3 linked regions of the Homo sapiens genome follow. The protein of the gene in region 3 interacts with the protein of the main gene of each other region in a biochemical or structural test. Each region holds a gene or a part of one and is shown on either strand. Other genes may lie near its edges.

What was found.
Region 1: the proteins of POP1 (region 3) and POP4 form a complex in vitro, tested with the Homo sapiens proteins (one study listed by BioGRID).
Region 2: the proteins of POP1 (region 3) and RPP38 form a complex in vitro, tested with the Homo sapiens proteins (one study listed by BioGRID).

The regions. Positions count from the first base shown.
Region 1 is NC_000019.10:29,607,049-29,617,755, forward strand, and holds the end of POP4 (ribonuclease P protein subunit p29), read left to right. Parts: intron 1-1,608; coding exon 1,609-1,661; intron 1,662-3,360; coding exon 3,361-3,584; intron 3,585-4,813; coding exon 4,814-4,891; intron 4,892-5,068; coding exon 5,069-5,130; intron 5,131-6,822; coding exon 6,823-6,924; intron 6,925-8,195; coding exon 8,196-8,332; 3' UTR 8,333-10,189; downstream 10,190-10,707. UniProt on the Homo sapiens protein: Component of ribonuclease P, a ribonucleoprotein complex that generates mature tRNA molecules by cleaving their 5'-ends.
Region 2 is NC_000010.11:15,090,509-15,101,713, forward strand, and holds the start of RPP38 (ribonuclease P protein subunit p38), read left to right. Parts: upstream 1-6,846; 5' UTR 6,847-7,258; exon of another isoform or gene 7,259-7,625; intron 7,626-11,205. UniProt on the Homo sapiens protein: Component of ribonuclease P, a ribonucleoprotein complex that generates mature tRNA molecules by cleaving their 5'-ends. Also a component of the MRP ribonuclease complex, which cleaves pre-rRNA sequences.
Region 3 is NC_000008.11:98,154,080-98,162,829, forward strand, and holds the end of POP1 (ribonucleases P/MRP protein subunit POP1), read left to right. Parts: intron 1-1,970; coding exon 1,971-2,333; intron 2,334-3,537; coding exon 3,538-4,192; 3' UTR 4,193-5,756; downstream 5,757-8,750. UniProt on the Homo sapiens protein: Component of ribonuclease P, a ribonucleoprotein complex that generates mature tRNA molecules by cleaving their 5'-ends. Also a component of the MRP ribonuclease complex, which cleaves pre-rRNA sequences.

The sequences.
Region 1 (10,707 bases), on a different chromosome or scaffold from region 3:
GCTCTCTACAGTTTATAATCCCCATCTTCCATTTGAGGGAGAACTAGATGCTATATATAAAACTTGCAACCACATTGGTTTGCTTGATCAAACAAACATACCTGGCTGGGTGTGGTGGGACACGCCTGTGGTCCCAGCACTTTGGGAGGCTGAGGCAGGGGGATCACTTGAGGCCAAGAGTTGAAGACCAACTTGGGCAACAACATAGCGAGACCCTGTCTCTACAAAAACTGGAAAAAAAAAAAAAGAATTAGCCAGGTGTGGTGGCACACACCTGTAGTCTCAGCTACTCAGGAGACTGAGGTGGGAGGATCACTTGAAACCAGGAGGTCGAAGTTGCAGTGAGCTATGATTGTGCCACTGCACTCCAGCCAGGGCAACAGAGCAAAACCCAGTATCAAAACAAACAAACAAACAACAAAAAAAAAAAACTTGTAACCACCTTGCATCAAACATTCTCAGGGAAGTACAAGAAAGCTGGAATTAAATTTACAGAGTATAGTGTAAATTACATTTTCTAGCTATTTAGCTCATAAACCAGGCCTTAGTAGTCCCATTCTTATTCCATTCACACCTGTACTCTGTCCCCAGTGCCATGGTTTTCTTCTTTCAAAAAATTAAGAAACAGAAGTGTGGAATTTATTTTAGAGGTTGAAACTTTATTGACCAATGTATATTTTGAGTTTAAAGGAAAAACTTGTATTTTATCAGTTCAGGACACCATCGATTATGTGACACATTATAATTTCATATTAAAATGTGAAGAATCTTTTTAAACATCTTACAGTTAACAAAACCTATTTCTAACCATCTACATCCTAGACAGCTATATCATATAACTTTTAATGAGTTACCTTGTTAGCAAGTGCTCAAGCTTCTAACTTGGGGTATTTTAAACCAATGCAACTCAAAATGTGATTCACTGACCTGCAGTAGTATCTGGGAATATGTTAAACACTCAGGATCTAGGGTAGGAGACCAATAATCTGCATTTTAATAAGATCCCAGAGATTTTTACACACGTTAAATTTTGAGAAGCATTCTTTTTAAACCATGTGCTTGGAACTTCTAGCATAGATGTGGCCAGAGGGTGGGATAAGAGGCATCCAAGAAAGCTTTGCTCTTAATACCAACCTCATCTTCTCCTATCTCTGAATAAGCAGTTGTTCTGCTATAAGTGTAGAAGTGTAGTTATTTTCTTTTCTTTTCTTTTCTTTTTTTTTTTTTTTTTTTTTTGAGACAGAGTCTCACTCTGTCACCCAGGCTGGAGTGCAATGGCACGATCTTGGCGCATTGCAGCCTCTGCCTCCCAGGTTCCAGCGATTCTCCTGCCTCAATCTCCCATGTAGCTGGGAATACAAGTGCAAGCCACCATCCCCGGCTAATTTTTGTATTTTTAGTAGAGACGGGGTTTCACCATGTTGGCCAGGCCGGTCTTGAACTCCTGACCTTGGGTCAGGATCCGCCCGCCTTGGCCTCCCAAAGTGCTAGGACTACAGGTATGAGCCACTGCGCCTAGTGGCGTAGTTATTTTCATAGTTAGAAAAGTCTTGGGTCTTACAGCCATACCCAACAAGAATTGATCATTTCTTTTTTTTAATCCCCCAGGTGTGATCTACCATGCATTGTCTCAGAAAGAGGCGAATGACTCCGATGTCCAGGTCAGTTCTTGGCAGGGAGTCCAGGAGCAACAGAGGTGATGGCAAAGATGGCTCAGTAGCTTCTGAGCCCCCAGCACTGATTGAGATGTCCTTTCCCACATCATACTCCTCATTTTTCTGGCAGACATCTAAGGCTGGATCAAAGTCTGTAGTTCTCATTACCTGTTCCCACGTGCCAGCCTCCTTTTCTGTTGTGCCAAAGTCAAGTTTGGTAAAATGAGGCTTTCCTTAACCTTTTATCATTTCCCACTGTGTTGGGGACACCAGGCTGTGCCCACGTGGTGGGCAGCATCATTCAACCTTGTCACTGTGCCCTCTGCACTTCTGCAGAAGGTGTGCAATCACATATCATAAGTGAAATTTACAGATTATATCTGAATGCCTCGGCCTGCTTTGTCAGTTTTGCAAAAGTTCCTCTTGTGGCTCATAATGAGAGCATTACCTTGAAAGCAAGATTTTGAAAGACCAGTATACCTTTATTTTGCTTCTCCATGAAAGATGAGCCACTCAGGTATTTAAGAGAATCAGATCATTGTCCTATTATAGTCACAATGACGAGAGTGAATTAATTTTTAGTTAGCATCTACAGGTGCAAAGCTGAAGCAGAGTTCCCACCATCATACTGTGAGCTCCCTCGAAGGCTATATGTACCCTATCTTCCCATCCCCATTGCTCTCCCACAGAAGGAAGGCTGCGTTACTATTGACAGATCAGCATCAGTCTGTCAGCCTCAGTCTTAGCATTTAGCACCTGGCTAGTGCAAAAAGAGCTCAGGAAACAGCCCAGCCAGGAGACAGGCCCTCAGGAGAGAGAACTGCCCAGGTCTGTGGCAGGCATGAGGGCAGTGGCATTGCCACCAAATGAGGAATCCGTTATTGGAACTCCAACCTGAGAGGTAGTGAGCTTGGAGGGTTTCTTTGTTTGTTTGTTTGTTTGTTTGTTTGTTTGAGAATTGCACACAATTACGACAGTCATTTTTCCCAGAAGTCCTCTCTAAGAGCCTGTGCTCATTCATGGTAAGTTGACGCCCTGCTCTCAGTGACACCCTTCAGAGAGAGCGAGCCTGGGGCCTGAGATGCTCTCGACGGTACCTTCCTCCAAGTGATGGTCTGCGGGGCGGGAGCGGACCTTTTGGAGAGTGGCCACACCATGCCCACAGAGCTGGAAACCCGGTTAAGGAGTATTGTCCTAAGGGCACAGTGTCAGGGTCCCTGCGCCCTGAGGCTTGGCCGACCCTGGAGCCCTAGTTTTGCTGTTTTCTGTAGTGTTAGGATCACTTCCTCCATAGCTTAGTGCTACTCTGAGCTCACTTTCATCTGGTCATGCCTGGTTGAATATATTTGTTATACATTTCTCAAGCTTTCTCTTCTGCCAAGGATGAGAGAATTCTTCTTCAAGATAGAAAGGTTTTGGTCCTTTCAGAATAACCTCAGAAAAGCAGGGCCAGAGCAGGAAGTGAGCGTTTGACACGCTGTTGTGTGTGACAAACGGTCATGAATTGGTGTGTGAGTGTGACTTACATCTCGGCAGCTGTGGGTAGCAGATGCATGGCGGATGAGCAGGTTGAGAGCCTCAGTAGGTAAAGGGATGGGCCCCATTTGCTCTTGCAGTAGCTGCCGGGAATGGCGGGCGGGATGCCTGGGATCCTGGGCTGCCCAGACCGGAGCAGTGAGCGCCGCACCCCCTTGTCCGCCTGCAGCCTTCAGGAGCACAGCGGGCCGAGGCCTTCGTGAGGGCCTTCCTGAAGCGCAGCACGCCCCGCATGAGCCCGCAGGCCCGCGAGGACCAGCTGCAGCGCAAGGCGGTGGTCCTGGAGTACTTCACCCGCCACAAGCGCAAGGAGAAGAAGAAGAAAGCCAAAGGCCTCTCTGCCAGGCAAAGGAGGGAGCTGCGGCTCTTTGACATTAAACCAGAGCAGCAGAGGTAACCCGAGCTCCCCACGTCTTTCTGCCCGCGGTGCTTACCCTTCTTGGTGTGTGAACTTGGCTGAGTGGCTGGGGAGGCAGCCTGGCTCCACCTAAGCTAAGGGGGCCTCTCTGTCGTCTGCCACAAGAGGGCAGCCTTCCTTTACCAATCTGGGCTGTGTTCAGCGAGGCGGGTGAGACAGGACTCATTGTCTGGCCTCTCTCCTCACCTTCAGGAGTAAGACCCGTGCAAGTACATCTGTTGCCCATGGCAACAGGCTGTTTGTCCTTCGGCTTTGTTAGACAGAAAAGAGGAACTGATATGTTTTTAGTGTGTATTACTTTGTAGCTTTTGATAGAGCCAGACAGTCACCCACTCGGGTTTCATTGCCAAAGCAAGATGTTGCCCACACGTTTCAGAAGTTTCCAAAAGGAATGCATCACTGTCCTGTCCTGTGGGAGGATGTCTTCCTCCAGCCGACCCGCCATCCCTCCTTGGTGACGGGTCTGAGTGTGGGTGTCTTGGGGCTGTCTGTAGGCTTTTGCTTGGAGATCAACGGCCAAATAGCCTCCCACGCTCCAGAAGACGCTTAAAGTATGCCATGCTGTTCCCGGCCCCACTCAGGAGATCAGCTGGGCCTCAGGTGGAGAAGGGGCTGCTGCCTCCCAGGGTTTGCCTCCCGGGTGGAGCCCAGGTTGGGTTTGAGCTTAAGGTCCTCATTTCTCTAACCTAAGGCTTTGTGGTAACGGATTCCCCACAGGATATCAAGACTGGAGATAATGGCCCAGAAGAACGCTGTTGGGGTCCTTGCCCCTGCTCCCCGCTTCTTCTCCCCACCACTTGCTTGCCCACCTTCCAGACCAGCCTGCTGCCTCACATGAGGACCTGCGTGACAACCAGCAACCCCTGCTTTACTGGGGGCTTACTAGGTTCAATTTCACGTAACAGAAAACCTCAAAATAACAGTAGCTTCAACAAGACTCACGTTTATTTCTCTCTCATGAAAAGAAGTCCAGGTGGACACCGCCCTGGGCTGGTGTGGTCCTACCAATGAGGAAACTGAGGTTAGAGAGGTGTAGGTTCTTGGTCTCGGTTATCAGCTCAATTGCTCATCGTCGGATTTGCACATAGTTCCTAATGATCCCAGGTTGCAGTTGTTGGCATCAAGTCAAGCTCTGTGCTATTTGGACATTGTCATCCCAAGCTCATGTTGTCTAACTTTTTCCCTGTTTCTGACTTTGCTGCAGATACAGCCTTTTCCTCCCTCTCCATGAACTCTGGAAACAGTACATCAGGGACCTGTGCAGTGGGCTCAAGCCAGACACGTAAGTTGCATTCCTGAAGCTTTGCTCTTTGGGGTGGATCTCAAGCCTCTGATCATTGTAAATGCGGCTTCAGGAACCAGCGTTGGTATTGCCTGGCTGCAGACGGTTAAAGACCTAGTTGCTTCTTTTGGAACTTTTTATCATGATGTAAACCAAGGGCTTCTGTTTACCCTGCAGGCAGCCACAGATGATTCAGGCCAAGCTCTTAAAGGCAGATCTTCACGGGGCTATTATTTCAGGTAATTTACCTAAGAGCGTGTAGCACATGGCCATCCAGAGGTTCACTCTGTCACTCTGTGGAGACCCAGGGCGTGTGTTCTGTTGGACACACTCTTTACCGTGTGGATTCCCTGAGATGGCCCCCAGTCACCATCATCCCCACGCTAAGGGTGGGAGATGCTTCTCGCTGGCTGTCTTAGCCAGTCCGGCCATTTGCTGGACACACCCTAAGTGGTCTCTGTGTACCTTCTCCACACAGGGACCCCTGTTGGTACCCTAAAGGGCACAGTGGCTGCGAGCACTCACCCACGGCCTGGGATCTTGAACACAGAATCCCTTTCATCCAATGCTGTGGTTTCAAATGTCAGCTACACCTGACAGCCCCCAAGGTGACATCTCCAGCGTAGGCCTGTCCCCTGAACTCCAGGCTCAGGCATCCAGCTGCCCACTTGACATAGCCACCTGGATGTTCAGGGGGCATCTCAGACTTTACATAGCCAAAGCTGCCACCGATTCTCCTCACAGCAACCCCTCCTGGTCTTTTCCATCTCAGTTAATTACTCAGTTATTTACACTGGTTGTTCAGACCAAAAACCTAAACAGTGTCTATGTTTCTTCTTTCCTAATCTCCTCGAATCCTTCGGAACATCCTACTACTTAAATTCAGCCACTGTCATTCCCCAGATTACCTCAGACACAGCTCCTCACCGCACCAGGCAGCCAGAGTGCCGGTTACGTAGAAATCAGAGCACGTTCCTTCCCTGCTTCAAGTCTTCTGGCAGCGTCCCATCGTATGGGAGTAAACCTGCCTCCTTGCTGTGGTCTAAGGCCTCCCCGCTCCCTGGGGCAGCAGGCCTCCCACACTGCCTTCCTCCTGCCCTGCCTCAGGGCTTCGCCTCTGCTCCTTACCTCTACCCGGGAGTTCTCCTGTGTGTGCACAGTCCAGCTTCTCATTGTTCAGCCCTGCTCCAATGCCACTCCCCTCAGGGTCTACCATTGCAAACCATGACCCTCCACACATTGCCCTGTCCCTACTCTTCATAGCACTCGTTGCTGTCAGAAAGTAGAATGGTGTGGTTCACCGTGCATCACCCTGCCTTGCTAGAACCCGGGCTCCGTGAGAGTAGGATCCAGGACCGCCTCTTTCCGTGCTGTGTCCCTGGCATCTCCTGAGGATGGTGCAGGCATTCCACAGCTGCTTGGTGACTCTGTCCGCTACACTGAGGCTCGGGTCAGGACGAGGGAGGGGCTGCTGCTTGTGATGGTGGCTCATCTCGCAGTGCTGGCTGCTGGGCAGCTCTGCAGCCACACTCACGTTCCAGCCAGCATCCTGGGCAGTGCATGGTGGTGTTTGTGCAGATCCTGCAAGGGAGACCTGGCTGCATCAGAGCAGCCAGCCCGTGGGCCCTGATGGTGCTGGGCACATATGTGACCTTTAATTCCAGAATCCTGCCCAAGACCCCTGTGGCCACAGACCCTCCGAAGGACACCTCATAGGAACAGTCCAGAGGCTGCAAAGCCCCAGGGGAAGCCTGGATTCTTGTTGGTTACATCAGGGCCCAGCTGTTGAGCCCCCACCCCCTGGGTGCTCTGTTCTTTCATCTGCTAGCTCAGAGGGTGGGATCAGCACCCCCAACCCCTGAGGCCTGCTTCTCTGTGGTTCCCCCAGCACCACAGAGGCCTGAGCCTGGAACTGTCCTTTTTCTTTGCAGTGACAAAATCCAAATGCCCCTCTTATGTGGGTATTACAGGAATCCTTCTACAGGAAACAAAGCACATTTTCAAAATTATCACCAAAGAAGACCGCCTGAAAGGTATGTAGGTGTTTCTGAGGGCATTGCTTGCGGGCTGTGGCTCCCAGCTACTGCGTTAGCCTTTTCCTCAAGGCTCCAAGAGTTTGATTTGACCCCTCAAGTCAGCGCAGATTGCAGATACTTGCTGAACCTGCATTAAAGCCTGCAGAGACCATCCCCTGCACCCGTGGCTCCCCCAAGAGGTGTGTGTCAGTGCAGCCTGCAACCCCGGCCAGAAATGGCCAAGGGGAAGGAAGACCTGCTCGGCTGTGCCTCAGGGGACCTGGGTCTGTTTAGGCCCCAGGAGAGGGCCTCCACCTGCCCCAAAGGCTGCTGCTCCCAGAGGAATGTAGCCAAACAGGCAGCAGGGTAGAAACAGGAGTGGCGCCTGTCCCTGGAGTTCTGAGCTGTGTCCTTGGCGATAACACTTGGGTTCCATCCGTGGCCAGCATTGCTCTAGCAGATACTTTGGGTCAGCCAGGATTTCTACACCCCGCCTTACCCACAAATCCAGAGATATCAAACCATAGTTAGAAGGTTTTGTTCCTTTAATTTTTCTTTTTTTTTTTTTTGGAGACAGTCTCACTCTTCCACCCAGGCTGGAGTGCAGTGGCACAATCTCGACTCACTGCAGCCTCCACTCCCGGATTCAAGGGATTCTTCTGCCTCAGCCTCCCAAGTAGCTGGGATTACAGGCACGCGCCACCACGCCCGGCTAATTTTTGTATTTTTAGTAGAGGCAGGGTTTCACCATGTTGGACAGGCTGGTCTCAAACTCCTGAACTCAAGTAATTCACCTGCCTCAGCCTCCTAAAGTGCTGGGATTATAGGTGTGAGCCACCGCGCCCAGCCTTCTTCCTTTAATTTTTGAGCTTGGTTTTTCTTGTTGCTTCCCTTATTTTCCTACATATCCTTCTACCTCACATTGTAAACCTCGGAAAGTGGTGTAATAGTTTCTCCACAGAGCATAAGGCCAGGAGCCCATCTGAAAGTTAATGTGGGAAAACCAGTTTCTGGCAGGTGTTCTGGGACTTTCTGGTTCTGGGAATTTGGTGTATAGCCTTTGACCCTGAAGATTAGGTGCCAAGCTACATTTAGCATGTGACTAGATTGACCTGTGGCAGAATAACCACAGGCAACCCTAATGCCCCTCCCCTTGTGGGTTTCCCGTTTCCTATTAGCTTATTTTTTTCATTCAATGTGTTCTGAATAATATTCTACCTAAAAGTAAAATATTAATAAATATTTTTCCTCATCTTTTTTTCTCCTGCCTTTTTTTTTTTTTTTTTCAGTTATCCCCAAGCTAAACTGCGTGTTCACTGTGGAAACCGATGGCTTTATTTCCTACATTTACGGGAGCAAATTCCAGCTTCGGTCAAGTGAACGGTCTGCGAAGAAGTTCAAAGCGAAGGGAACGATTGACCTGTGAATTCTTTGCCGTCTAAGGCAGTTGTTTATGACAGCTGAAAACTGGACACTCCCTAAATGTCCACCTTTCAGTGAAGAGATAGTTAAGCCAATTCCATTTATAGACCACCTCCAGCCAGTGACGCTCCGAGTTGAGGATGTTGAACAACATGGGAAGGTCGCAGCGTACTAAGTGAAGAAGTCAGAGGACAGAGGAATTTCTCTTTCTAGGAGATTTTCATTTTGTGTGACTCCCATGGGGAGGAACAGACTGGCAGGAAGCACACCGGGGTTAACACTGGTTGACTTGAATAGGATTATTCGATTTTTAAAAATACTTTTCCATGTTTTCTGAGTGCTCTATGATAAATCAGTTGCATCTGTGATAATACAGTACATATGTGGACATAAACAGGGATCAAATAAAGGAGGTATTGCTGCAGTCCAGCCAGGTTGAAAGGGAAGGGGGGTCCCCAAAGGTCCATTGGATGGCAGGTGTCTACAGAGGCTCGCCTTTGGGTGGAACTCTGACCCACCTAAGGTTTACTTTGCTATTTCAGGAAGGTTGAAGAGGATTGAAGGGTGAGTTGCTAAGTGACTTAGGGTTTATTCACTTCAGGAATCATAGCTGGGGTGGACCCCAGGAGCAGAGTACTGCATGCAGCTGTGCCCATGCATGGTTGCCCCAGCGTAGTGAGATGGGACCTGCCGCAGCATGCCCACTCCTGAGCTGCCAGGCTGAGCCATGGAGGACTGAAAGGAGGTCGCCCGGCATCACCTCCCGAGGTGAGACCTGCTGCAAAAGCCAAGCCAGCAGCATTGACGCCCTTTGATATCTTCGCCATTTTTGCTGCTGAAAGACTTGGCTTTTCAGTCTGACCCTGGCCCTCTGTGACCATGTGTCTGTAAAGCCAGTGGGTCAGGCCCTTCCATGCAGGGCCAGAGGAAAAGCGGGCCCAGGGCTGCAGTGAGAGCGGGGCAGGGGACCAGCCTACCAGATGGGTTGGAAACATGGCTCAGAAGGACCAACTACCCCTTCCCTTTGAGGAGCAAGTCTCTGCCGATCAGCAAGGCAAGGCCAGGAGCCCTCCTGGCGAAAGGCAGGCCACAAATCTGTTCTCCCCCAGGAGAAGTAGCAGTGCCAGGGCTTTGCGTTTCTGGTAACTTCCACCCAAACCACACCAGAGAGAAACACCGTAGTGGAGAAGGGAAGTGGGAGCGCTGACTGCTGTGTGCCAGGAGAGTAGAAAGGCCCAGGTCTGTGCCACCACCCCTCCCCAAAGCTCAGTGCACCCAGAGTCTCACAGGGACCAACACGGTGCCTCGGTCCTGCTTCCATCCATGCAAGTGTCCTCCGCTCACCAGGGTGTTCTGAGGCAGCTCAAGTGCTCTCCCCCAAGCAGCACGCAGTCACCGCTGCCAGTGATGAACACACGCACGGGCTAGGCACATGGAGCCCAAGCACACTGCCACCTCGGACACGGGCCCCGGCCCAGCGACTGCCTTGTGGTGTGGCCGTCCTCATCTGCCACAGGAAGACAGACTTCGAGGGACCTCTTGCCTAAGGCCTCGCTGACTCAAGGGTAGATTGAGATTTGGACCTAATAGGCTCCAGAACTGTGCTTTGAGCTACAGGGTGGCTGCAGGATGAGACGGATGCAGTTCAAAGTGCAGGATGTGCTGCCTTTATTACCTGCTTTCCCGCTGAGCAAATCCCTGTCTTGAGTGGGAAGTGGCATCTATTCCCCCAGCCATCTGAAAATGCTGTGTTCATAACCAAATAGGTGCTGTAGCTTCCTAGCCATCCCGCTCTTACCCGCCCCTCTGCAATGTAAAAGGCGTCCACTGTTGTGTAAATACACAGTTGCTTTCCAGAAAAGTTGTAGGTACCACTTGCCATGTGAAATCTGTTTTTCATTTAGCTCAGACTCAAGTTTCTGTGTGAGTGGCGGTTTAATTTGTAGATACCTCTCCCTCTCCCCCAAGGAGACATGGTGAGGGTGCTCACCGGCCACTAAGCTGCCGCTGTGCCTGCCTGTTTCTAGGATACACTGTTGCCCTCATGGCCCACCCAGGGGTCATATCTCCCAGGTAGAGGAGGGAAAGGGGAGGGCCCAGCTGGGCGGGACATGGTTCCTGATGAGGAACAGCTGCAGAAAGCATGATCTGAGGCCCAGGGGCCGTGGCAGGGGCCAGGGCTGCCATGTCTCCACAGGCTGCGGCACAGCTTGTCATGGAGGGTAATGTGGTGCTTTTTGGCCCGATCTCTCCCATGTCCACTGTCCAAGGAGCAGGACCCTGGCAGAGCTGAGGCCTTGGCCATGTGGTCCCACGGGAGACAGAGCCACATTCGACTTGTGTAAGCCTCCATGCACCAGAGAAAGTGCCAAAGAGGAG
Region 2 (11,205 bases), on a different chromosome or scaffold from region 3:
ACTGAGGCTCATGGCAGCTTCAGCACAGCCAGGCCTTTCTCTGTTAGCCTAGTCCTGGCTGCGGGCAGAACCCGGTCTGTGGTGTTTCAGCAGGAAATACTGCACTGAGTTCAGGTATCAGTCCATATCTTCAGCTGAGACATTCTGGAATTATCGTCACTGTAAGAATCCAGAAGAGGAGAGGGATGGACGCTACATTGTTCTCTGCTTTTTTCTCTAAATCCAGAATGTTCTTTTAAGACCTCTTTTGAAAGTATTTTCTTCTCCTGGGTTGCCATTCCCCATCTCATTGCCTAGCCATGTGTGTCTTGTCTTGAGATGCAAGAAGGGGCCAGGCGCGGTGGCTCACGCCTGTAATCCCAGCACTTTGGGAGGCCGAGGTGGGCAGATCACTTGAGGTCAGGAGTTCAAGACCAGCCTGGCCAACATGGCAAAAACCCTTCTTCTAAAAATACAAAAATTAGCTAGGCATGCTGGTGGGCACCTGTAATCCCAGCTACTTGAGAGGCTGAGGCAAGGAGAATTGCTTGAACCTGGGAGCCGGAGGCTGCAGTGCGCCAAGATCTTGCCACTGCACTCCAGCCTGGGCAACAGAGTGAGACTCTGTCTCAAAAATAAATAAGATAAAATAAAATAAAATAAAATAAAAACCATAGCATGAGTTTCAGAATAGGTTTTTCTTTTTCTATAAAAAAAATCCTTTGGGATTCTGATAGGGATTGCATTGAATCTTTAGTACTGTCACGATGAACATTTCTTAACCCTGGCAGTGCATTCAATTACCTGGGGAAAAAAAGATACAAACCCCAGTCTGATCCCTAATTCCCACCACCATTTTGATGTAATGGCTGTAGGGTTGGACCCAAGCCTCACGAATGGTGCATCCATGGTTTTGCTCTCTTCTCTGCAATGACAATTTAGCTCTCCTTGGCTGAACAGTACATGTGGTCCTCCGGGATGGACCAGGTCCTGCTGACCTCTTCAACCACATCTCTCGCTATTTCCCACAGGCATGGATGCTCTACCCCAGGTAACTGAAGGACTTCAAGTTCCCTTTCTCCACGTTGGTAGATAGTTGCCACTCCACTGTCTGGCACACCCTTTTCCTTCTTTTCTTTTTATTTTCTTTTCCTTTTCTTTTCCCTCCCTCCCTCTCTCTTTCTCTCTTTGATTTTTTCTTTTCTCTTTCTCTTTCTTCTCTCTCTCTTTCTTGTTTTTGAGACGGAGTCTCAATCTATCACCCAGGCTGGAGTGCAGTGGTGACATCTCAGCTCACTGGAACCTCCACCTCCCGGATTCAAGTGGTTCTCCTGCCTCAGCCTCCCTAGTAGCTGGGATTACAGGCGTATGCCACCATGCCCAGCTAATTTTTGTATTTTTAGTAGAGATGGGGTTTCGCCATGTTGGCCAGGCTGGTTTCAAACTCCTGACCTCAAGTGATCCACCCGCCTTGGCCTCCCAAAGTGCTGGGACTACAGGCGCGAGCCACCATACCTGGCTCCTTTTCCCACTTTCTTAACAGCCAACTCCTCCTTCAAGACTTAGCCGACATGGCAACACCTCCAGGAAGACTTTGAGACAAGAAATAGCTTTAGCCTGGTCTTCTCGTCTATGAGCCTCTGGCCATCTCTCTCCGTCTTTCTTCTGTTCTCATTCTTACCTGCCTTCAAAGGGCTTCCGCTCCACTTGGCCTCCCGGCTGTTCTAACAGGCCTGTCGCACTGCTGCTCTCCCGTCTCTACCTCAGAATTATCTTCCCAGGGTCGGCCTGGCTCAGTGCTTCCACTCCTCTAGGTCTTTGCTCATCTGTCATCTCAGGAGGCCTTTTATCACCCATCCTAGCACCCCCTTCCACTCTTACCTGCTTTTTCGTGTTGCTTTTGTTTTTTTCTGAGATACAGTCTCACTCTATCACCCAGGCTGGGGTGCAGTGGCATGATCTGGACTCACTGCAACTTCTGCCTCCCAGGTTCAAGTGATTCTCCTACCTCAGCCTCCCGAGTAGCTGGAATTACAGGTGTGCGCCACCATGCCCAACTAATTTTTGTATTTTTAGTAGAGACGAGGTTTCACCATGTTGGCGAGGCTGGTCTTGAACTCCTGACCTCAAGTGATCTGCCCACCTTGGCCTCCCAAAGTGCTGGGATTACAGGCATGAGCCACCGCGCCTGGCCTTCCCTGCTTTTTTTCTGTAGCACTTTGAATCATCTGACAACTTAAATCGTTTACTTTGTTTACCGTTTCTCCTCCTTTAGAACTCTGGCTCACCACTTTATCCCCAACACTTAAAATTCAATGAATATTGTACCTGTAGGAAAAGGCGGGGGGGGGGGGAAGAAAGGGAGGAGGGGGATAAAAAGGAAGGATTAAATGTCTTTCAAATTTCCCCGTTTTCATAAAACAGCACTGCTGAGACCCCTGACAACCTTGGACATCTCCACATAGCCACAGAGCCAAGGCCTGACTGCGGTCTACCCTGAGTCCTCGCCGAATGCCTGTGATTTCCCTGGGAGCAAGGCAAGGCTTCCCTTTTTTTTTTTTTTTTTTTTTTGATTGAGTGCAGGAAACTTTATTGATGGTACACGACAAGGTGAGGCTCCCATGGTGTCTCCCTCTTCAGGGCGTCTGCGTGGAAACTGTGAGGAGGGGAGATTCTCAGTGGGGGCGGGGGCTGAGTGGGGCAGGGACTCCGCAGCAGTGAGAGCCTCTCTCGTCCTCTCGTGCTCTCACTGGGGCTGGTGGTCCGGGGGTCTTACTCCTTGGAGGCCATGTGGGCTCCGCCACCCTGTTGCTGTAGCCAAACTCACTGTCATATCAGGAAATGTGCTTGACAAAGTGGTCGTCGAGGGCAATGCCAGCTCCAGCATCGAAGGTGAAAGAGTGGGTGTCACTGTTGAAGTTGGAGGAGATGACCTGGTGCTCGGTGTAGCCCGGGATGCCCTTGAAGAGCCCTCTGAAGCCTGCTTCACCACCTTCCTGATGTCATCCTATTTGGCAGGTTTTTCCAGATGGCAGTTCAGGCCCACAACTGACACGTTGGCAGTGGGGACACAAAAGGCCATGCCAGGGAGGTTCCCATTCAGCTCAGGGATGACCTTGCCCACAGGGCTTCCCTATCTTGTGGGAGAGTCTCACAAGGCTGTTTCTCATCCATGTCCCTAGTTTAGTTGAGACTAGGGCTTTCCATCTTCCCCTTCTTTCTCCGCACCCCCTACAACCTGCTCCACTTTAGGATGGAGCCGCAGGCTTCTGTGTAAATCTGTAGAACTGCTTGCTGAAGTTTAGTTTGTTCCTCGACAGAGTGACCCACCACTCATAAGACCTGTCATCTGACCTCTGAGATTGGGAATGCTGTCCCATGGGATTAGAGATGCAGGGAGCTGACATCATGTTGGTCTTGATTTTGCTGTTTTGTGAGACCTGCGAATTGCTCAACTGCTTGAAACTCCTCACCTTCACTTGTCTCTATGGACACAGATATTCTTTGGAGTACTATACCGTTCCAATTAGTAAAGCTTTCAGTATTCATTTTGCATCTCATCATTAAAGTTTATTCTTAGTAACTGATTTAAAATAATGAATTGTTTACATAACAACTACTGTTACATAACACACACACACACACACACACACACACACACACAAACACACACACACAGCTAAGGTCAGAATACCATGGAGGAAAAGAAGAATCTGGTGGTCAATTCCCTTACATTCTTCTATTGACAAATTTTCTTGTTGGGACCTTCACTTATTTCATCAAAGGATTGTGGCTAATGATCTAATTTATTACTCAGAATCTTTTTATTTATTTGTTTTGGAGACAGGGTCTCACTCTGTTGCCCAGGCTAGAGTGCAGTGGTGTGATCATAGCTCACTGTAGCCTCCACCTTCTATGCTCAAGCAATCCTCCTGCCTCAGCCTCAGGAGTGGCTGGGACTACAGGCACACACCACCATGCCCAGCTAATTTTTTTTTTTTTTTTTTCTGTAGAGACGGGGTTTCGTCATGTTGCCTAGGCTGGTCTTGAACTCCCGGGCTCAAGCAATCCTCCTGCCTCAGCCTCCCAAAGTGCTGGGATTACAGGTGTGAGCCACCACAGCCGGCCATCACTCAGAATCTTAAGTCATTGTCAAATAATGGAAAGCATACAAATCAAACAGTAGTCCAATTCTAGAATTAATATAAAAAGAAAGCTCTAATATACAAAGACCAAACAGATTTTACAGGATAAAACAACTGTCATTAAAAAGTAAAACTGGCAGGTGTGGTGGTGCACATCTGTAATCCCAGCACTCTGGGAGGCCAAGGTAGGAGCATTACTTGAGCCCAGGAGTTTGAGACCAGCCTGAGCAACATGGCAAGACCCCGTCTCTACAAAAAGTACAAAAATTAGCCAGGCATGGTGGCATGCTCCTGTAGTCCCAGCTACTCAGGAGGCTGAGGTGGGAGGATCACTTGAGCTTGGGAGGAGGTTGCAGTGAGCTGAGATGGTGCCACTGCACTTTAGCCTGGGCAACAGAGCAAGACCCTGTCTCCAAAAAAAAAAAACCGTTTCTTCAGAATAGGATATCAAATATGTAAAGTAATAATTTGAGAAACATGAAAAAGCGTTATGTGTAAAGAAAATCAGAAGACTTAATCTGTATTAGTTTAATGTAAAAGCATGCACATATGTGAAACAAAGTAGAAGGGAACACTAAAGAAAAAAATGGGTGTGATTGGGTCATGGGAGAATGTTTTTTACTTTTTGGTTGTAATGTTTGTGTGATACAAGAGGGACAGAAATTACTTTCGAAATGTACTTGTTAATTTTAGCAAAATCCTCGTGGAAATTATACTGCTAGTTTTAAAATAAAACACAAGCACTAAAATAATAAAGGTTATGTTTCATTTTTATTAACTTAGTTTTGCCACGGTTGAGACTGGATTTGCCATAGTTCAATTTATCAAGCACTTAACTATGTGTTCCGCACATAATAATCATCTTAGCATAGAGGAACATGTCTTCTAATCCGCACAAGAGATACTATTTTTATCACGTCATAGAGGAGGTTAATAAACTTGCCTAGGTCATAAGATCTTCAGTTGATGAAGTTAGGATTTCAACCCAGAGCCAAGTAATGTAATGGCTGATGTTTTCCACAGAGAAAATGTAAGCCGAGATGATGCTCAAACTATAAATCTGGAACCTTAGGGGGACAAAAACGTATGGATGTCTCCTTCCCATTACTTTAGCATTTTAATTAGATTCCTGTGTCTCTATTTGTCTTTGGAAATGCAAGCTGCTTGCAGTTCATCATAGCTAACTCACACAATTCATTTTATGAAACACAAACCTGTTCTCACAAACTCACTGTCATCTCTTTTTAATCTTTCTAATTGTGATAAAAATCATACTGCACTTTACCCTGTGTAACCTCCAATGATCTTTGACCAAAAGCCAAATCTTTTTTTTGTTGTGTTTACTTATGGACAGTTAGGTTCTACATAGGTACTTAAACATGAAAATTGAAATCATAGAGGCTGGGCACAGTAGCTCATGCCTGTAATCCCAGCACTTTGGAAGGCCGAGGTGGGCGGATCACCTGAGGTCAGGAGTTCGAGACCAGCCTGACTAACATGGTGAAACACCGTCTGTACTAAAAATACAAAAATTAGCTGGGCTGGTGGCCCGTGCCTGTAACCCCAGCTACTCCGGAGGCTGAGGCAGGAGAATCACCTGAACCTGTGAGGCGCTGGCTGGAGTGAGCCAGGTTCGCGCCATTGCACTCCAGCCTGGGCAACAAGGGCAAAACTCTGTCTCAACAACAATAATAATAATAAATAAAAGAAAGAAATCACAGAAACTATACCAGAAAATAGGATACAAAACCAACAGTGAGGAGATTGAGAAAAGGAGGCAGATACGTAAAGAGGAAAAGGAAGGGGGCCCAAGTAAGGCCGGAAAAAGCGGGGAGAAGGAGGAGGCTCATTAGGTCAGAAGCAACCTGCCGTCTTCTAAGTTCTGGCCAAGGGTAGATCAACAGATCCAGATTCCTGAGCTTTAAAATGTTATTCGGCCGCTTCATCACTTGTCCCCGACTTTGCAGCGACTCCGATGGTAGCCTGAGTCTCCATTGCTTGGAGCAGCCACAGTGGACACTGGACGGGATATTCTGTGCAGCTGTTGCTGAACTCAAGGCAACTCTTACTGCCTTTCTCTTTTCGGGCTCAAGATTCCCTGCATTATTGCCCATAGGCATGTGTTTTACCCCATACTCCTTCTCCCTTTTATCTTGATTTTCGCGGTGCTGGGGAGTCTGCAGGGATTCCATGGCGACGGGCTCACTGGGACAGGGGCTGGGGTTGTGCGTCCCTGAGGCAAGGCAAATACAGAAAAGCGAATAGAGACAGAGGGCTAAGATTCCAAAGCACTGAAAGGTAGAAACTGGGTTAGAAGAGAGAGGGGAGCACAAACGCCCGGAGAGAGCGAGCCCTCGGGATACCATTGGCTATAGGCTGGCCTCCGAACAACTGGACGGTCCAAGTCCTGAGCGTCTGGTTACCCGGGCAACCGCATGGTCTCGCGATACATACCTCGCGCCTGCGCACTGCCCCTGTAGCGGGGGTGGGGGGACCCGGTCCGGAGACTCCACCCCGGGGCCTAAACTCGAGTCTAAAAGATTGGGCCTCGTTGTGTCGTTTCCGGGTCGCGCGACGCTGTGGGCCGCTTTCCCCTCTCCGGAGTGACCTAACACAGGATAACGAAACCTGCACTGCTCCGAGCGCTTCCTCCCCGGCCCGTCGCGTCTGCGAGGCGAGGCCGGGAGGCGAGGGCTCTGCGCACGCGCGGCGCAGGCGCACTGGGCGCCGGTGCTGTTGCCTTCAGGTGACCACGGATTCGCCATCGTGAGTTCCAGGTGGGCGCGCGGGGCCCACGTAGGGCAGGAGGCCAGCCCCGGGGGGATCGGGCCCGGGACTCTGCGGAATCTGGAGGCCGAAGCCCGCGCGCACGCAGGGTCTCTGCTGCTTCCCCAACGCCTGTTGCGTGGCCGCAGGACCCGCCGCCCTCCCGGTTGGGCCGCCCAGTCCCGGGCCGGGCGCGTGCACCCAGAGCTTCCGCGTTTCTAGTCCGGCTCCTCTGCTGGATTGCAGCGCCGGCTGGGCACCAGGAGTACAAAGCGAAAACCCCCGCCGGCCCTTCTGTTCTCCACGGTCTCCAAGGAGACACGGACAACAGAACAACACTTCCGTGTGCTAAATAGTAAAGCACCAAGGTACTCGATCCAGGGGCGGCGTGCAGTGGGGAGGTGAGCTTTGGGTCGGCCGTCGCCCCTCGGCTACCGGCGGGATCCAGAAACCGGGAGTCACCACCAATACCGTTCTCAACTTTACTTCCAGCTGGTCACTACTGTGTCGGGAGATTCTACCTTCTTTTCCGACTAACATGTATTTTTCTCCAGTCCTTTCTGCGGCGTCTCTAGTGCAGGCCACCGTCATTTCTAACCTGGACGACTCCAGGAGCGTCTTTGCTGCTCGGGGACTCTTCCTTTGCCCAGATCCACAAAGATCTATAACGTCTTTCTAATCACGACACCTCTGCTTTAGATGTTAAAGTTGCTTCACACTGGAACGCTTGCAAAGGTCTTCATTATCTGGTCCTTACCCACCTTTCCTAGTTTCTCACCGCTTTCTCTAGCATCTCTGCCCCAGCCACATTGAACTTATTTGAACGTGTTTTTTTTTTTTTTTTTTTTTTTGAGACATAGCAGTCGCCCAGGCTGGAGTGCAGTGGCGCGATTCCGGCTCACTGCAACCTCCGCCTGCCGGGTTCAAGCGATTCTCCTGCCTCAGCCTCCCGAGTAGCTGGGACTACAGGCGCCTGCCACCACGCCCGGCTAATTTTCGTATTTTTAGTAGAGACGGGTCACCACGTTGGTCAGGCTAGTCTCGATCTACTGACCTCAAGTGATCCGCCCGCCTGGGCTTCCCAAAGTGCTGGGATTACAGGCGTGAGCCACCTCGCCAGCCAACTTATTTCTTTTAATACTGAGATACCTTTCTTTACTCCATACTTCCTTTGGTAGGCATTGTTTAGATGTAGGTTAAGAGGTCCGGCCCGGCGCGGTGGCTCACGCCTGTAGTCCCAGCACTTTGGGAGGCCGAGGCGGGCGGATCACAAAGTCAGGAGATCGAGACCATCCTGGCCAACATGGTGAAACCCCGTCTCTACTAAAAATACAAGAATTAGCCGGGCGTGATGGCCCGTGCCTGTAGTCCCAGCTACTCGGGAGTCTGAGGCAGGAGAATCGCTTGAACCCTGGAGGCGGAGGATGCAGTGAGCCGAGATTGTGCCACTGCACTTCAGCCTGGCGACAGAATGAGACTCCGTCTCAAAAAAAAAAAAAAAAAAAAAAGTTCCTCTGTGAGGACTGCCTTTTCCCACCCCCCTCAACTAAGCTAGGCCTCTGCTGGATGTTCCCTAAGCATACTGTTCCCTGACCTTCATGTGCATCAGGCTTTATTGTATAATTACTTGCTAATATTTTTTCCTCGTGGACTCTAAGCTCATGAGGTCTGTGAGAAAAAATACTTAATCTTTATGGCCTGGCACATCGTGGATAATCGATAAATATTTGTTGAAGAAAGGAAGGGGCCTGCGGCTGAGGGTGGGAGTGGTATTCCAGGCAGAGGGACTAATGTGTATAAAGACTTGCAGGTGGGAAAATGCTGGCCTCATTAAATAGTATGTTGTTCGGTGTTGAGGACTTGTGCTTGGTGGGGCCTAAGGAGAAAGAGGGCCTAAGTGGGAGATTGAGCTGGAGTGTGGAGGGCCTTTTATGTCACATTAGAGTTTAGGCGGGGCATGGTAGCTCATGCCCTCAATCCCAGTACTTTTGGGGAGGCCGAGGCTACGGGATTGCCTGAGCCTAGGAGTTGAAGACCAGCCCAGGCAACAAAGCAAGACCTTGTCTCTATAGAATTTCTTTTTTTTTTTTTTTTAAGACGGAGTCTTACTCCATTGCCCAGGCTGGAGCACAGTGGTGCAATTACGGCTCATTGCAGCCTCCGCCTTCTGGGTTCAAGCAATTCCCCTACCTCAGCCACCCACCTAAGTAGCTGGGATTACAGGTGTGCACCAGCACTCCTGGCTAATTTTTGTATTTTTAGTAGAGACTGGGTTTCACCATATTTGCCAGGCTGGTCTCGAACTCCTGACCTCAAGTGATCTGTCCAGCTTGTCCTCCCAAAGTGCTGGGATTACAGGTGTGAGCCACCGTGCCCAGCCTATACAGAAAATTTAAAAATTAAAAAAATTTTCTGGGCTTGGTGGTATGCGCCTATAATCCCAGCTATTCAGCATGAGGCTGAGGTGGGAGGATTGCTTGAACCCAGAAGTTCAAGGCTGCAGTGAGCCATGATCGAACGACTGCACTACTGCCAGGTGACAGGGCAAGACTGTCTAGTAAAAAGAGTTTGCCCTTGATCTACAGGCAGCAGAGGCCTCTTGAGACAGCTCTAAAGGGCCCTCAGCAAAGCCTATTTTTCTCTCTTTCTCTAAAGCTATAAAATCTTATCAGTCAGTACTTTGTTTCTGGATTATATTGCGTGAGATTATGCTTATCCAGACTACTTGGCTCTCTTTATCGCCCCAGCAGATTCTGCAGGTGGGACAAGTTTATAGCCTGTTTTGTGATCCCTCTGGAGCATGATTTTAAGTATTTATTCTGTGGTGTTTGGATGTGGAGACATCATCTGACTTGCAGTTGGCAAGAGCTCTGCCCCATCCTATTTGTTTCACCCCCTGTCACTTATTTCCCTCTTCCTGACCACTTTGAACCTGATGCCAGCCCCTCACAGTCACTGCATTGCATCTGGATGAGCCACTTTTCTTCCTGATTTCCTGAGCTCTAGGGGAGCATAGAGATAATGGGGTCAGGGGACACAGTGTGGCCACCGTGAAGGAAGCAGCTTAGGCCCCAGAAGTCTCCAGGATTGCTGTACCGAGATGACCAGGGTGTGATCTCTCACCCTAAGGAGCTGAATTTGGCTTTTCTGTGGGAAAGTGTCTGGGAAGAATATCAGAGACCAATAGCGCTCAGGGGGCCCTTTCTCGGGGCTGTCCAGTGTGGAAACACCCTGTCCTACACCAGTGGTTCCTGATTCCGGCTCTGAATCAGATTCACGAGGGCAACTTTTTTTTTTTTTTTGATATGGAGTCTTGCTGTCGCCCAGGCTAGAATGCAGTGGCGCGATCTTGACTCACTACAACCTCCGTCTCCTGGATTCAAGAGATTCTCCTGCCTCAGCCTCCAAGTAGCTGGGATTACAGGCAGGCACCACCATGCCTGGCTAATTTTTTTGTATTTTTTAGTAGAGACGGGATTTCGCCATATTGGCCAGGCTGGTCTCGAACTCCTGACCTTATGATCCGCCCGCCTTGGGCTCCCAATGTGCTTTGGTTACTGGCGTGAGCCACTGCACCCGGCCTGGGGCAGCTTTTTATAAGCACAGATGCCCAGGCCTTATTATTGAAGATTCCAATTCAGTAGATCTGGGTTGAGGACCAAGCATCTGCATGTTTTAAGAAGCCACAGGTTATTTTTGAGGTGTAGCAAGGATTGAAAGAACAGAAAACTTGGATTTGGAAAACTAGTTGTGACTTTAGGCAGTGAGTCAGTTTCCTAATGCACACATTGGGGGATTCTATAGGAATGCTGTAAGAAGCAAATAATACATGGAGAGAGTGCTTTATACAGCGATACACTGCACAGACACACTTGCCTTCAACATCAGCTGCCAGCCTAGTAAGTGGTAGTATAAATGCAAAGGATATAACTTCCTTTAGTTTTGCCAGGTGGGTCCCTGTGATTCTAGCTGAGCCCCAGGAAGGAAGGGAAGAAAACTGAGGGAAGAGAAGGGAGTGTGTAGTTGCCTCTGGGAAGGATAAAAGGATATGCCCTCTGGACCAATAGTTTATAACATTTTCCCCATTAAGCATCCTTCTACTCATTTTTCCTCAATGGATTAGTATCTTTAAATTTCATTACATTTCCCTAGTCTTCATGGAATTGCCAGCCAGAGAAGTCAGCTCGGGGTCCCCCTAAAAAGGAGGACTGGCCGGGAGTGGTGGCTCGTTCCTGTAATCCCAGCACTCTGGGAAGCTGAGGTGGGTGAATCACCTGAGGTCAGGAGTTCGAGACCCGCCTGGCCAACATGGTGA
Region 3 (8,750 bases):
AGATTTGAGGAGAGAGGAATTGTAAGCAGTTTCTGGGAGAGTGGAAGACGGAATTGAGAGGAGAAACATGGGATCTGTAAGATGTAGAGGGCACCTACTTGAGATTTGTGTTTATAAAGGAAGACCGTTAAGAACCATCATGAGTTCTTCCTCCGCTGTGCTCTGCCACTCGGGCTGGCATGGGGTCATTGGAGAGTTGGCTGCGCCCAGGTCAGCTTTCCAGTGGAGGGAGTGGGGGTGTTTGTAGGGGAGGGACGGTGGTGTGAGCCATCTAGGCTGATGAAGAGCGAGGCAGCTGCTGCGAGCCGCAGGGAGGTGCTAGTGTAAATGGGTGGTTGGGGCATTGTTGTGGGAGGGTAAGTGGGTGGAAAACAGGAGGCATGGCTCTGAGAGCAGGATACTGACATCGCAGTTTGAAGCTGGAGCAGGTGTTGGCAGTGACCACACCTAAGGTATGAGCAGGGAGTGGGTGCTTGAGGTGGGGTGAAGTAAGACATGCGAAGTGAGGGTGGGAAGGTGACTGGTGGGTTATTGGAAGGATGATTTAGGCAGATGCTGAAGCCACTGGGAGTGACAAGAGTCATAGTGGTGCAGGGGAAGGCAGCATGACCGTCAAGATCATTAATTGCAGCCTTGTTTGGAGGAACAAAAGCTTAAAGACAATCAAAATGTCCTTTAATAGAGGACTGTCTAAATCAATTAGGGCATATTCATTCAGTAGAGTAAGATACAAGATACACAGCCTATTAAAAAGAAAGAATGAGGGAGCTTTCAGTACTGGTATAAAGTAATCAAGATATTTTGTTAAATGAAAAAAGTGAAGTTAAGCAAAAAGTACTGTACCTAGTATGCTGCTATTTGTATAAAAATAAATAAAAAGAAAGAAATATGTAATATCTGCTTGTGTGTACATAAGATGTCTCTGGAAGGCTATGTAAGAAACTGATAATGATATTTATTACCTTTGTGGAGGATAGCTGGGTCACTAGAGGTCAAGAGTAAGACAGAAACTTCATGTAGCCTTGAGCTTAGAACCTCGTAAGTGTACAGGAAAATCGTGGCACAACTCTAGGGGCACCAGTTCCTTGTAGCTTTCAGGAATGGATCCCCTGGTGTGGTTCAGTGGCCACATGGGGCTACATTGTTTATTGAAGACCAAAGAAAACAAAAAAGCTTGGCCAGTAGAATTGGTTATTATTATTATTTTATTTTTTATTTTTTGGAGATGGAGTTTCGCTTTTGTCAGGATAGAGTGCAGTGGCATGATCTTGGCTCACTGCAACCTCTGCCTCCTGGGTTCAAGCGATTCTTCTGCCTCAGCCTCCCTAGTATCTGGGATTACAGGCATGTGCCACCACACCCAGCTAATTTTTTTGTATTTTTAGTAGAGACAGGGTTTCACCATGTTGGCCAGGCTGGTCTCGAACTCCTGACGTGACGTGATCCATCCGCCTGGGCCTCCCAAAGTGCTGGGATTACAAGCATGAGCCACCATGCCTGGCCTATTATTATTATTTTCTGAGACGGAGTCTCACTCTGTTGCCCAGGCTGGAGTGCAATGGTGTGATCTCAGCTCACTGCAACCTCTGCCTCCTGGGTTTAAGTGATTCGTCTGCCTCAGCCTCCCAGTAGTTGGGATTATAGGCACCCTCCACCATGCCCGGCTAATTTTTGTATTTTTAGTAGAGCTTTCACCATGTTGGCCAGGCTGGTCTCGAACTCCTGACCTCAGGTGATCGCCTGCCTTGGCCTCCTAAAGTGCTGGGATTACAGGCATGAGCCACTGAGCCCAGCCTATTATTCTTTATCATATGTTTCTTGGAAAGCTTTTGTGTGTGTGTGTGTGTGTGTGTGTGTGTGTGTGTGTGTGTGTGTGTTTTAAAATAGAGATGCATTATAATGGTTATAATTATTTTAGTTTTCCAATCCTAAATTGTTCAACATTGGTTCTCCTGTATGTTTTTCTTTAGACGCCCTCCTGCAAAACGGCCCAACTACGTTAAGCTTGGCACTCTGGCACCTTTCTGCTGTCCCTGGGAGCAGTTAACTCAAGACTGGGAGTCAAGAGTCCAGGCTTACGAAGAACCTTCTGTAGCTTCATCTCCAAATGGTAAGGAGAGTGACCTAAGAAGATCTGAGGTGCCTTGTGCTCCCATGCCTAAAAAAACTCATCAGCCATCTGATGAAGTGGGCACATCCATAGAGCACCCCAGGGAGGCAGAGGAGGTAATGGATGCAGGGTGTCAAGAATCGGCAGGGCCTGAGAGGATCACAGACCAGGAGGCCAGTGAAAACCATGTTGCTGCCACAGGGAGTCACCTCTGCGTTCTCAGGTAAGTGTCGGTGACTTCTGGGTACATTTTGGATTATTTATTTTAATATTGAAGAGGCTACAGGATGTAAGCGTTATCACTGTTTGTTTATGCAAAATCCAAGTGAATTTATAGGCTTTCTGGAAGGGAAAGCCAGTCTTTTATATTTCATAGAGGGCTCAGGGAAACAGCTTAATAATATTTGATGTAAGGCATGATGCTAATTGATGAAATGATTTACAATATTGTCATCAATAGATCCAAGCCAAGGCAGTTTTTTTTCTGACATATTTTATGCAGTTTGAGCAAGGATTCTTTGCTTTAAATTACCAAATTAGATTTCTTCTAGTTCCTTTTGAATTATATGGATTTGTGTTAGAGCAGCAACCCATTAGATGTAATATAGTCCTAGCCAGAGAGGCTACCGGATACACTATGTTCTCCTCTCAGTATTGGTGTGGGCCAGGTTCTGCTCATCAGTGACCCTGCATTCTGTGCTTTGCTCTGATTTTTTTTTTTTTTTTTTTTGAGATGGAGTCTTGCTCTGTCACCCAGGCGGGAGTGCAGAGGTGTGATCTTGGCTCACTGCAACCTCGGCCTCCTGGGTTCAAGCGATTCTCCTGCCTCAGCCTCCCAAGTAGCTGGGACTACAGGTACATGCCACCACGCCTGGCTAATTTTCACCATGTTGGCCAGGCTGGTCTCGAACTCCTGACCTCAGGTGACCCGCCCACCTCAGCCTCCCAAAGTGCTAGGATTACAGGTGTGAGCCACTGCGCCCGGCCTGTGCTTTGATTTTTAAAAAGTGCTTATCCCTCTAGCCTTGTGCTTACTTTTCCGTATAGTAGCCTCATAATTTCCTATCATTCTTTCTTACTTTACATGTAACAGTCCCTTACAGTTCCTTTACTCATTGAAATCTTAGTGGCTCTTTATTTTCACCCTCACTGTGATTACAATCCTAGATTCTATCTCACTGTCTTGTTTTCCCTGCCTTCAACTTCTTAAATCTTTAGTCCCTGAGTTTCAGAATGGCAAACACATAAAAAGAAAAATATAAGTACTAAAATGTACTACAGTGTATTTCTAATTTTTAAAAAATTGTAGTTTTGATTCTTATATAGTATAAAAGAATCAAATTAATTCTAGCAGTGTCTAATCTTCTGATTGCATATTTTTTTCTGGAACAAAATATCCTCAAACGTATGTCTCCAACTTCATGTAGGAGTAGAAAATTACTGAAGCAACTGTCAGCCTGGTGTGGGCCCAGTTCTGAGGATAGTCGGGGAGGCCGGCGAGCTCCCGGCAGAGGCCAGCAAGGATTGACCAGAGAGGCTTGCCTGTCCATCTTGGGCCACTTCCCCAGGGCCCTGGTTTGGGTCAGCCTGTCCCTGCTCAGCAAGGGCAGCCCCGAGCCTCACACCATGATCTGTGTCCCAGCCAAGGAGGACTTCCTCCAGCTCCATGAGGACTGGCATTACTGTGGGCCCCAGGAATCCAAACACAGTGACCCATTCAGGAGCAAGATCCTGAAACAGAAAGAGAAGAAGAAAAGGGAGAAGAGGCAGAAGCCAGGACGTGCCTCTTCTGATGGCCCGGCGGGGGAAGAGCCCGTGGCTGGGCAGGAAGCTCTGACTCTAGGGCTGTGGTCAGGCCCTCTGCCGCGTGTGACGTTGCACTGCTCCAGAACTCTCCTAGGCTTTGTGACTCAGGGAGATTTTTCCATGGCTGTTGGCTGTGGAGAAGCCCTGGGGTTTGTTAGCTTGACAGGCTTGCTGGATATGCTGTCCAGCCAGCCTGCAGCGCAGAGGGGCTTAGTGCTACTGAGGCCTCCCGCCTCTCTGCAGTATCGATTTGCGAGGATTGCTATTGAGGTGTGAATGCGTGCTTGTATCCCAGCAGGGCATAGATAATACGTTATTATTGTCTGCCAAGTTCTACATGTGGAGAATCTGCTTCTGCTTTAAAATATCATGTGAAACTCCCTGGAAACAAGAATAAAAAATTATGTATTATGCAGATGATGAAATGTTTACATCATTCCAGTAATGTCATTGATTTTCATCTTTCCCTGTCCTTGCTGTAATACTTTTAAATTATTTGGCCAAAAGCTTTGTATTATGATCTCTTGGTCTGTGTAGTTGTGGCTGAAAATAATGAGAAGCTCTACGAGTTATCATCCCCTTTTTTTGTTAGAAACAAAGGGCTTGTCAGGTCTATTTGAAAAACCTCATAGTCATGTGATAAGCAACAATAGATGTTTAATGATTTCACTGTTATAGCAGAAGACAAGAGAAGACGCTTGGCCTCTGTACATGAAATATGGGCTCCTGATGGACCTCATTCAATTCTGTACTGTGATTTCCATGCCGAACAACTCAAGCCTTAAAGAGAGAAATCATGGACAACTGATTTCTGCCTGTTTTCAGGCAGGCACAGTTTATGGCGTCAGTGCTAGGCTGGAATTAGAAAGTGGGGGTCTATGACGTGGACTTCCTGACTCTTTGATCTCTTTGTTGTTGACCAACACTTGATCCTACTAGTTACTTAATTTTTTTAAGTAAAAAATTATTATTATTTTGTTTCTGCAAAGATTTTCTCAAAGCCATAGAGGAGCATTTCTCAGAATATGTTCTATGATATGTGTCACCTAAAAAAGTAAGAGATTCCAAGGTCAGGTTGATATGGAAACTCTAGGTTAAATAAAGTTAAGCATTTCTTTATGAAAGAACTTCTGGAAACTTCCATGTGATAATGTGCATTGCGGATCTCTAGGAAGGAAATGATAGTGTATAGTATTTTCTAAATACTTGTGATTCCTAAAGTTCTCTTACAAGGAGCCCTTTGTAGGACCAGTGTTCTTAGTAGCGCGCTTTGGGCAGTGTGGCTGTGTAGTGCATAGCTACCTCTGCAAGGTGATAACTAAGCCGGCAAGCTGCCTTTCAACACTCATGCAGTCACGTTGTCCACCTGAGATTCTCAACAGGGTATAAAAGGAAGGTCTCATCTTGCCTCACAGGAAGAGTGGGCTCAGTGTGGCTTTTTTCCAACTATGGAGAAACTCAGTGCTCATCTACTTTAAGTTTCCACATATGGCTTGCTCATAGCCTTGGTCCTTACCTTTCCTGCCATAACTTTCTAGAAGAGCTTAATGGGATTTTTTTTCTAAAAAATGTAAATATGCAGTTAGGCATTATTTTATGTAAATGCATTGGGTTTTTACTGTAGCATTTGGCACTAAATGGCTTTGGGGGTGATGAGGTGGGGAAGGATACAGCAGGTGGTACAGTAGTCAGGAAGTACCTGCCACCAATGAGATGTCTGATGCTTTGCCTCTTACCATGCCTCTGAATGTCTTTGGATCCAACCCAGATGAGACTGAAAAAAAAAAAACAGTGTAACTAAGTGGCATCTGTAAACAGAATAAATGAAAATGTCACCTGATGTTCAGTTGTGAATATTTATATTTATTGGACCATTCCTTATTTGTTTTCTGGGCTCTCAGTCACCTCATTTGTGGCTGAGCTCACTCGATGACAGAAGTCTGAGTGTGCTGCGTGGTCACCTAACCTCATTCTGTACAGCCCTGCCTAGGGCCTGCTGCCCCGCCCTCATTATAGGGGACAGGGCACGTTTGCAGCCACTCTGCCTGGTGGGTGGTAGGTCAAAGAGCTGCGCACCAGAAAGATAGATTAGCATTTCCCAAAATGTATTCCTGGGAGTACTAGTCCCTGCAGCTGTTCCTGGAGAAAAGTATTTTATGGCTAAATAAATATGGGAAAAGCTATATATGGTATCCTCCTATTATGATTCACAATGAATACTTGCAGAGTCAAAGCTCTGCAAAGCTCTTTAGGAAAGAAATCTGTCTTTCAGACTCCCACACACGTACCTTTTTTGGTTTTTGCATACCTATTGTCCAGAGAACACTAGTTTCACAGAAGATACGTTGAAAAACTAACAGACTCTGCAGAGGCAGTAAAGAATCCATGTTCCTTATGAAAAAGACTGATAGGGGAATGGCTTACTTTCTGGCAGTTGAATTGATTAGCGTGTTGATCTTGATCCTTCCAAGTGCCTGCCATGCTGTACTAGAGCTACATAGCTACCAAATAAGTGCAATGTGGCCCTTGTCCTCTTGTTGAGGGAGCAATGCTTTTAGGGTTCTTGAAGCATCCTGACCAACATGGTGAAACCCTGTCTCTACCAAAAATACAAAATTAGCCAGGCATGGTGGCGCATGCCTGCCATCCCAGCTGCTTGAGAGGCTGAGGCAGGAGAATTGCTTGAACCCGGGAGGCGGAGGTTGCAATGAGCCGAGATCGCACCATTGCACTCCAGCCTGGGTAACAAGAGCAAAACTCCATTCCAAAAAAAAAAAAAGAAAAGAAAAGGCAGAGTTGTGAGCTGAACACTTACAGACCAGCTATGCACTTGAGTTCTGTAAGAAACAATGGATTCCTTTTGGTGTTTATGCTCTAGTAATATTGTTCATATCAGTCATCCATATTCATCATAAAACAATTAGAAAATGAAGATGAGCAACAATAACAAAATTTAAATCACCTGGATTTTCACCATGCAATATAACTAGTTACCTTCTGTTATGTATCCTAGACGTTAAGATGTATGTGGGTAGTTTTCTTTTAATAACATAAGCCGTTGCTTATATAAAGAGCTATACCATGCAAGTGCAGCAGAGTGCATGTTACCAGTTTTTTTGTTGGTGCTTGACTGGCAAGAGCTTTAAGGATAATACTCCTTTTTTTTTTTTTTTTTTTTAAATGGGAAGTTAGTATGTAACCACCCATCATGTACTAAGTGTAGCATTGCCGTCTTGGCGGCCACATGCCTTGCGTGAGTTCTTTCTTCCCAACCAGTGGGAGGTGAGGGGGGCGGTTGACAAGCTATATGGACTCCCTCATAGTCTTAACTGGCCTACTCGTAGCCAGCCGATCTGAGGCCTGGGGAGCACAGAGATAGGTCCAGGATTGAGCTGTTTAGCAGAGAATACATAGCCTGTAGCAACTGTGGGCCACTCAAGCATCAACCCCAGTTTCACAGCGGTTCTGGTTATTATAGGCCTCCTGAGGACACAGAGGAATACAGGCACTGCCTTTTCTTTGGCAACAGCAGCTTCCAGTCTTGGCACCCTTCCCTTCCCCTCCCCTTCCCCTCTCCTTTCCTTTCCTCCCCTTCCCCTCTCCTCCCCTCCCCTCCCCTCCTCTCCCCTCCTTTCCCCTCCTCTCCCCTCCTCTCCCCTCCTCTCCCCTCCTCTCCCCTCCTCTCCCCTCCTCTCCCCTCCTCTCTTCTTCTCTCCTCTTCTCTCCTACAGTCTTACTCTGTCTGCCCAGTCTGGAGTGCAGTGTCACGATCTTGGCTCACTGCAACCTCTGCCTCCCGGGTTCATGCGATTCTTCTGCCTCAGCCTCCCGAGTAGCTGGGATTACAGGTACACGCCACCATACCCGGCTAACTTTTGTATTTTTTAGTAGAGACGGGGTTTCACTACGTTGGTCAGGCCGGTCTCGAACTCCTGACCTCAAGTGATCTGTCCACCTCGGCCTCCCAAAGTGCTGAGTTTCAAGTGTGAGCCATTGTGCCTGGCCTTTGGCTGCATTTTAGAATCACCCAATAGCCCAAGCTGCAGCCCAGAAATCAATCTTGGGTTGGGCCCAAGGATCAGTATTTATGAGCTCCCCAGGCCGTTGTGATGTGCCGCTCAGTGGAGAATCGCCGCTTTCGGAGGTCTGGCTCTTGGACCCTCTGCACCTTGGGGAAGTGTGACTGAGTAACAAGGCCATGGAAACCCAAGAACTCCTGTGCCTGTAGCAGGCCTGCTTGCCATTACGAAAAAGTACATGTCTGCAAAGTCCGCTCACACGGTCTGTTGACTGCATGGTGAAGCGTCCAGGTGGGAACGTAATGAGAGCGTAGTGTCGAGGGCTGGGTGGCCCAGAGTCAGGGCTTCCACCTGGGGAAGAGGCCTGGTAGTGAAAAAGAAAACAGCCTCATTACTTCTGTAGCCTTCTCTACTTGAGAATATCAAATGAGGTCTCTTGTTTTTCTTTTGGTGAGTATACTTCCAGACCAGCTGTTCTCAGCCTTGGCTGCACATGGGAATCACCTGCAGGCTTTCAAAGCACTGGTGCCCAGGGCCTACCCTCCTGGGATGAAGCTTTAACTGGTCAAGGGTGTGAGCTAGACTTTGGGGGTTTTAACAGCTCCCAGGTGATTTGCAGCCAAGGTTGAGAACCACTCTTCCAGACTTTAAAAATGAGGTTCCAAAATAAATAATCAAAGATGCAGCTTATCAGTAATGGGGACCCTGAAGCAGGGTGTGGGGAGCAGATGCAGCTCTCTTGAGTGGGGCACACAGCTGTGACCCATGGCCCTGGTAGGGGCCTCCTGGACTTGGGCACGTGGCCAAGTTCATGT